Homo sapiens: one gene and its partner. The protein of the gene in region 1 interacts with the protein of each later gene in a biochemical or structural test. Each region holds a gene or a part of one and is shown on either strand. Other genes may lie near its edges.

The links. Proteins that work in one complex are often made in the same cells at the same time.
Region 2: the proteins of HNF1B (region 1) and SOX5 form a complex in vitro, tested with the Homo sapiens proteins (one study listed by BioGRID).

Annotation. Positions count from the first base shown.
Region 1 is NC_000017.11:37,738,381-37,742,491, forward strand, and holds part of HNF1B (hepatocyte nuclear factor 1-beta), read right to left. Parts: intron 1,260-4,111; coding exon 1,060-1,259; intron 1-1,059. UniProt on the Homo sapiens protein: Transcription factor that binds to the inverted palindrome 5'-GTTAATNATTAAC-3'. Binds to the FPC element in the cAMP regulatory unit of the PLAU gene. Transcriptional activity is increased by coactivator PCBD1.
Region 2 is NC_000012.12:23,528,855-23,531,799, reverse strand, and holds the end of SOX5 (transcription factor SOX-5), read left to right. Parts: 3' UTR 1-2,296; downstream 2,297-2,945.

The sequences.
Region 1 (4,111 bases):
CAATCACTTCAGAGCAGTGTGTAACAGAAGACAAGAGTCATTTTAAAAAGCAACAGGGAAAAAACCCAACCCAGAAACCCAGATAGTGGTGGAAATTAACATCTTGATAAAGACAGAGAAGCCTAGATAAAGCCAGAGGATAGTGTGTGGGGAGAGTGAAAACCGATACAAATTTTCCAGGAAAAGGATTGGATCAAAGTAATGAAAGTGTAATGTCAAAGAATACTTTCCTAAAATACAGACAGTATGTCATTCCTACTCTTGTTATTCATAGGCAGTTCAAACTTCTCTAGACGTACTTCAAAACAAAAACCTTTTAGAATTATTGGGTGGGAGAAATCTTGGGACAGAAAAAAAACTTTGGGATGGGAATGGGGATGACAAGAATTGATGGGTCAGAGTTCCAAATGCAGATGCTTTTCCTGTGCCCTGCCTTAGCCAGAAATAGCTTCTTCATGAGCAGGGCCACCAGCTGAGGTCCCCACACTCTACCAGTGTTGGTAAATGTGGGTAAACACCTTAAATTGCCTCAGGATTCAATCCCTCCCACTATCCTCCAAGAACAGGGTGAAGTTCTGAATATATCTCTCTATACAAATGCATTCTATTGTTGATACTTTTTCCAGAGAGGAGGAAATTAACAGTAATAGTAATCAATATTATTGACTGCAACGAAATGTCTTCTTTGGAAATTGACTGATGGTCACGTATCAAGGGGAGATGCTGGGTTTTCTCTCAGGGAAGACATTTCACTCTGTCACCTACTTGGTTTCAAAGAGAAGGAGGTGGAAGGAGGGGCCAAAAAGTTTAAGGTATGCTGCATACACTGACAGGCTCCTCAGAGCAACTGGCTGGGTAGCAAGGGGGCTGTGACTGAAGAACATGACAGAAGCCAATCCATTGTACAGCAACCACCAAGGCCAAATCTACTTGCCACCTTCCTCATATCTGCCAAGTGCTCACAAGGCCTTGTCGATGAAAGGGAAACTGAGGCAGCCAATGGGGTGAGAGGGCAAAGGTCACTTCAGGTTGAGGCAGAGGCAGGATGAAAACACTTACGTCGGAGGATCTCTCGTTGCTTTCTGACGTACCAGGTGTACAGAGCGGCACGCTTCTGGGTCTTCATAGGGGTGCCCTTGTTGAGATGCTGGGAGAGGTGCGACTGGTTCAGGCCGGTGACATCGACCACCTCCCTCTGGGGGATGTTGTGTTGCTGCATGTAACCCTTGATCATTTTAGCAGCCCTCCAAGGGTCCTCACTAGACAGACAAGCAGATGGTTAGGGTACTAGTGGGAGACATCTGGGGAGAAACATTCTTTTTCTAGGGGGTGCTACCTATGGTCTATGCAAAATTCTGAATTTTCCCCCCATCTAAGCTACAACTTTGGGGTAGACATGAGGCCAAAATGGAAGCTAAACAGAGGAGAAGGTGACTGCCCCTGTACGGTACACCTCATCCCTTTCTTCTGAGGTTAGTGGGCAAAAGAGGACTTCCCATCTTCAGGAATAAAAAAGCACCACCACCACTCTCTCTTATTAAGCAAAAAGAAAAGCTCTTGTTTTATTTAATTAATTAATTAATTTATTTATTATTATTTTTTTTGATGTGGAGTTTTGCTCTTGTCACCCAGGCTGGAGTGCAACGGCATCTTGGCTCACTGCAACCTCCACCAGGATCCTGGGTTCAAGCGATTCTCCTGCCTCAGCCTCCAGAGTAACTGGGATTATAGATGCCCAGCACCACACCCAGCTAAATTTTTTATTTTTAGTAGAGATGGGGTTTCACCATGTTGGCCAGGCTGGGCTCACACTCCTGACCTTAGGTGATCCATCTGCCTCGGCCTCCCAAAGTGCTGGGATTACAGACGTGAGCCACCGCGCCTGGCCATTTTATTTTGCTTTCCTCCATTTTCCTGCAATGTGGGAGATTTAAAAGGCAGGAGGCCCACTGGAAAGTGGGGATGCCTTTAGCTTGGGGCTGGACTCCCTGATCCTACAATGAAGTAGGGATAGCATCAGTTTCTGAATTTGCCCAATTTTAGCTTCAACCTCTCCTACATTATTTTCCTTTTGAATGGGTATCTCCATTTCTTATAAAACAGGGGTGAAATGTATGTGTTCACCTTCTAAGAAGCAAGGAGGATGTCTTAGCCAAATAGTAAATAATTTTCAGAGTTTTAGAAAAGTTTTCCAAAATACAATGTTGTATCTCCTTGGGACGGGAGGATCACACCACTGAGGTGAGGCAAGTAGTTAAAAAAAAAAAAAATCCACAGCTCCACCTTCCAGACAAAATCTACTGGGCTAATGGGGACAAATAACTTCAATTTCGGACATTAACAATTTTAGATGCTTGTTTTCCTGTATTATGTTTCTCATAAATTTTAAATACTGGATAAGAACATGGTTATACTTTTCATTTCTCATAAACACAGGTGTGTAAACTGCTAGTTTTAGCACCTTTGAATTTTATTTGTCTAGAATGGTTTCAACTTTGCCAATATCTTTTCTTGCTTATTGAACAGATGCTTTGAAAAGAGAGATATAATTTAAAACTAGAAATTAAAATAGTGTGCAGCACAGAACAAAAGTACTAAAGAAGCAATATATACATGTTTACTATTTATTTAATGCAGGTACATATTTAACTTACAAAAACCAGCACCCCATTACTGTATGTTGATATATATATTAGCTTGATAGAACAAGAAAAAAAACGGAAGGGAAAACTAGTTTCAGGTGAAACAAAAAAGAAAACGGTGTAGAGGCTGAAATAGATACAGCATTGCAACATAATAAGCAATTTTATTTCTAAATGGCGCCTTTAAATATGTCAAATAAAATTAATTCTGTTTAATGAATAAAAATCCAGTAATCGAACATATTTTATAAGCATTTGGGTAGTTGTGATTATTTTATTAAGACTTTGATATTAAACTCGTGAGAACACAGGCTTTGATAGAGATGTTTTTGAGAAATGCAAACTTTTTATATTAATTATATATAAGAACGAATTTCTCAAGTATTTACAAAGGTAATTTCCAAGTACACAATATGAGGAAGTAACAAGAAGAACAAAAAATGAGAAAACGAGTTACAGTTTCAAACGTGGAGAATTCACATTAAGAGGAAAATAATGTAATAAACGTTTTAGACATATCCTTGTAAACATCACAGATCATTTAAAAGTTTATTTCTGGTCAATATTTCCACCGATATTTTTAGGATGGAAAAATACTTTCAACGGCTACGAACAAGACTCCTCGAACCTTAGGGGAAAAATTGCATTTTAAAAGTGAATATTGCTTTAGCAAATTCTTCGGCTATTTTTCTTTTGTTTAAATGCCTTTACCTGTGTTCATTTTGTATGCCTAAGAAACCTAGAAAAATAGGGTACTGTTCTAAGTGGGAATGATTCTGTGGAAACAGTGAATTAGCCCAACAATTGGGGAGGGTTTAAAAAAAGCCCCCAAGAACCTTATAAATAATGGCAAAACCTTTTAAGTCCGACTTAAAAGAGTGAGGAGTAAGATGGCGCAGTTATACCTTCACAACCCTCTGACCCCAAAATTCACGTGTGTTCACCGGGAAGAGCCGGGAGAGCTGGTTATTTTTGTTTGTTTGTTTGAAAACACAGCTCAGGTTCAGAGGTTCCCTAACACCGAGAAAGGCACCGGTCCCGAAGAGGGCCTGCGGCCATTGTGTCCCAAGCGCAGGTGTCAAACGCCGGCCGCGGCGCCCGCAGGGTCCGTCCCGCACGCTCCTTCTCAAACAATGACTTTGCTGCCCACGAGCAGAGAAGCCTGGACTCCAGCGCAGTCCGCAGCGCGTTCGTTAAGGAGCCCAACTTCGGCTTCTTAGAATGCAGCCCACTTTCTAGACGCCCCCGGCGCACCTGCCTCGAGGCCGCGAGAAAGGCCAGCTCCGGCCGGGAGCCGGGGACCGGGAAGCGCGCAGTCCCGACCTTCCTCCCCTGCCTTTCTCTTCCAGGAGGTTTACTAGAACTCCGGGAACTCCAAAACGCGACTTTTCTTTCTCTTTGCTTTTCGTCTTAAGGGAACACGGTGGGCAAAAGAAGGGAGTGCGTGTGCCCGAGGCTTGGGAGCCCCC
Region 2 (2,945 bases), on another chromosome or scaffold:
AATTAATAGGAGGGTCGTGTTCAATCTTAATTAACTTATGCTCTCATCACTCATTTTAGTTATTTAATTGCCACAGTCATCTAGAGCCAATTTTTTTTTGTTTTTGTTTGTTTTGTTTTTAAGCACTCTGGATAAGGAAAAAATAGACACTTGTTTTTATATCATTTTTATGTACAATGTGAAAACAGATTTTTAAAAAATTTGTTCTCTGTCTTTGTTAACAAATTCCTTCCGATTTATGTGGGTTCACCTCTCACGTTTGCTGGATACTTACTTTACACCATGTTATGAAAGATGCTTTGTTTTCATTTCATGAGTTTGGGCTACAAGAATACTTTGTTTTAGCTCCAGGTAGATGCCATTGAAGGCATTCATGGCTGAAATCAATTCTAACACACTTACCGATGAATTGACAACACTTTGGTGTTTGGTCTTTTTTTTGTTATATTTTGTTTTATTTGAAGGGGAAAACAAAATTGTTAATGGTGACTTTTAACTGCTGAAATTCAAAATTTGATTTTAGTTAGGTTTATGTCCGAGACTAAACTGTGCATGAACCGAAACAAAAAGCAAGTTCATACCGCTGCATTCTGTTCTCTTGTTCTGACGGTTAATTCACTGGACATCAAATTTTCTTTGCCCTAGTTTTCCCCAAAAGAAAACAAAAGCAAAAATAGTTATATTAATGTTGAAAGTGCTTTGAAGTCACTTGATAAAAGGTGCTATGAATAGCAACTTACTGTGTTACTACATTGCCTTTTTGGCATTGGTTGATTTATAATTTTGGTAAAGGATCCTAAAACCCTGTATTCTTTTTCTGTGCCCCATAATGACCAAAAAAGATAAAGAAAATGAGAGTAAGATCAAAAGATCAAACTAAAACATAAACAGTCTCCTTCCTGTCTGCTTTCTTACCTATCTGTTCACACTTTATCTCTTTCCCTTTCTCTCTCTCTCTCACATGCGCGCGCGCGCGCGCGCACACACACACACACACACACTTGCCCCAACACTGAGAAATAATCTTGCCAGAATTCTGGTTTTTATAGTTGTTGTAGTCCGTTTCTCTAAAAATAGTCCTGTTTTCATATGAATCTAAGAGAACATTACCGGAGAAAATAAAGTTACTCATTTATAGTTACTAATAATAAGTTAGTGATTAACTTACCACAATTGGATAAAATATAAAACTATTCTTCAGCACATTTATACCTAAATTAGTGAAGTCCATTTGTGAAGTTCATTTGGCATCTGCAGTTAAGAGTTAACCATGTATAAAATCCCTCCCAAAGAACATAATCATCGTTAGAACCAAATCCTCTTATAAAGAACAAATATAAAAAAGTTTTCTGTGGTGAAGCTATTTTATAGATTTGATTTCCGGAGTAGAATTTTACCTTAATTCACTTAAAGAAAATTAACCATTTTTTGGTCCAACTTCAGATATTTTCTTAATCCAGAAGCTGTGACTGTTCCCAGAAGAAACCTCTTATATCACATTTAAAACATAAAAAATAATTACACTTTCACTCATTCTAATGGGTAAATTGTTGAATTGTAATAAACAACTGTATATTTACAAACAGGTTTATAAGGTATTTGTCTATCAAATTAATAATAAAATAAAACTTACGGGGTCTGCAAGGAAAACTATGAAGGCCACTTAAAGTGGTTCAGGTATCCCTTTGTCTTGTAGGGCATAGCTGTTGGTTTAGCCAGGCTTTTACAGTATTTAATTTTAAAGTATCCTATAACTATCAACTTCCCAGGTTGAAGACGATGTGTTGAGTTTCCTACTGATTGATTGATTCCTGTCCTCCCCAGTGTTTCCGTCACTGGTTCACTAAAACAGTATTTATATAGCTCCACTGGCTCTAAAGCTCTTAGTCCTTCTAATATTTTGGATTTTACAAGTAAAAATGGAAAAAAAATAGAAAAGAGACAATCAAATGCCTGGAGCTTAAAACAAAGTATGTGCAACCTACCATCTCACTTGAAATTTAATAAAATAATAAGTAATTATGTAAATATAACATAGAGTTATAGATTTATATTTTGTTCATAACACATAGTGTAATATAAGTTGTATATTTTCATGTTTTTGGTTTTATGTTATCATTCATGCCACAATAAAAATAAAACAGGAGTTTATGTGCTCTTAAAAAAAAGATGTGGGTTGCCACCAACCTGTTTTTCGTTTTTGTTTTTTGTTTATTTTATTTTATTTTTTTGCATTCTCCTTTTTCAGTATTACTGCCATGCAAGGCACCAATAAAAACAGCAAATGTGTTCTTTACTTATTATACTGTGTTTCTTTTCACAATTATTGTTATGAGGGTGTAATTAGTTTTATTATGAAAAGAACAAAAGTATGGAAATTTAATTTTGTTTTTAATATAAATAATCCCTCTTATTGAAGTTGACTTTAAGAACTAAAGGTTTAATTTTTAGCTGTGGACATTCCCAGAAAGACAGTCAGGACTTGATATAATGCATTTCACTCAGACAGATCTAGCTTCACCATACTGTCAAAAGATACTGTTCTTATATGTAATTGATTCAACACAATTGAAAACCCAACAGTCTAAAGCACCTTTAATATTGTTGTTTTCCCTGGCTGGACACTATCCTTGGGTGGGGGATGGGGGGTTTCTATGCTTTAGAATTGTGCTTTATCCTTTCGTTTGTATAGAAGATTTATAAATTTCAGATCATGAAATTACTAAGAACTATGAATAATTTTCACCTCGCTGGTATCTCATTTTGAATAATGGATATTTCTGAATTGTTTAACATTAGCCTCTCAGTTCTACCTTAAACTTTTTTAGTGAATGTTAAAAACAAGAAGTCTCCTTTCCTTTCAATGGCCATTTTTGCTTGTCTCTTCCACCATAATATGTTTTTCTACCTTGATAGTTCTATATGTAATAGTTTCATTTAAGGGT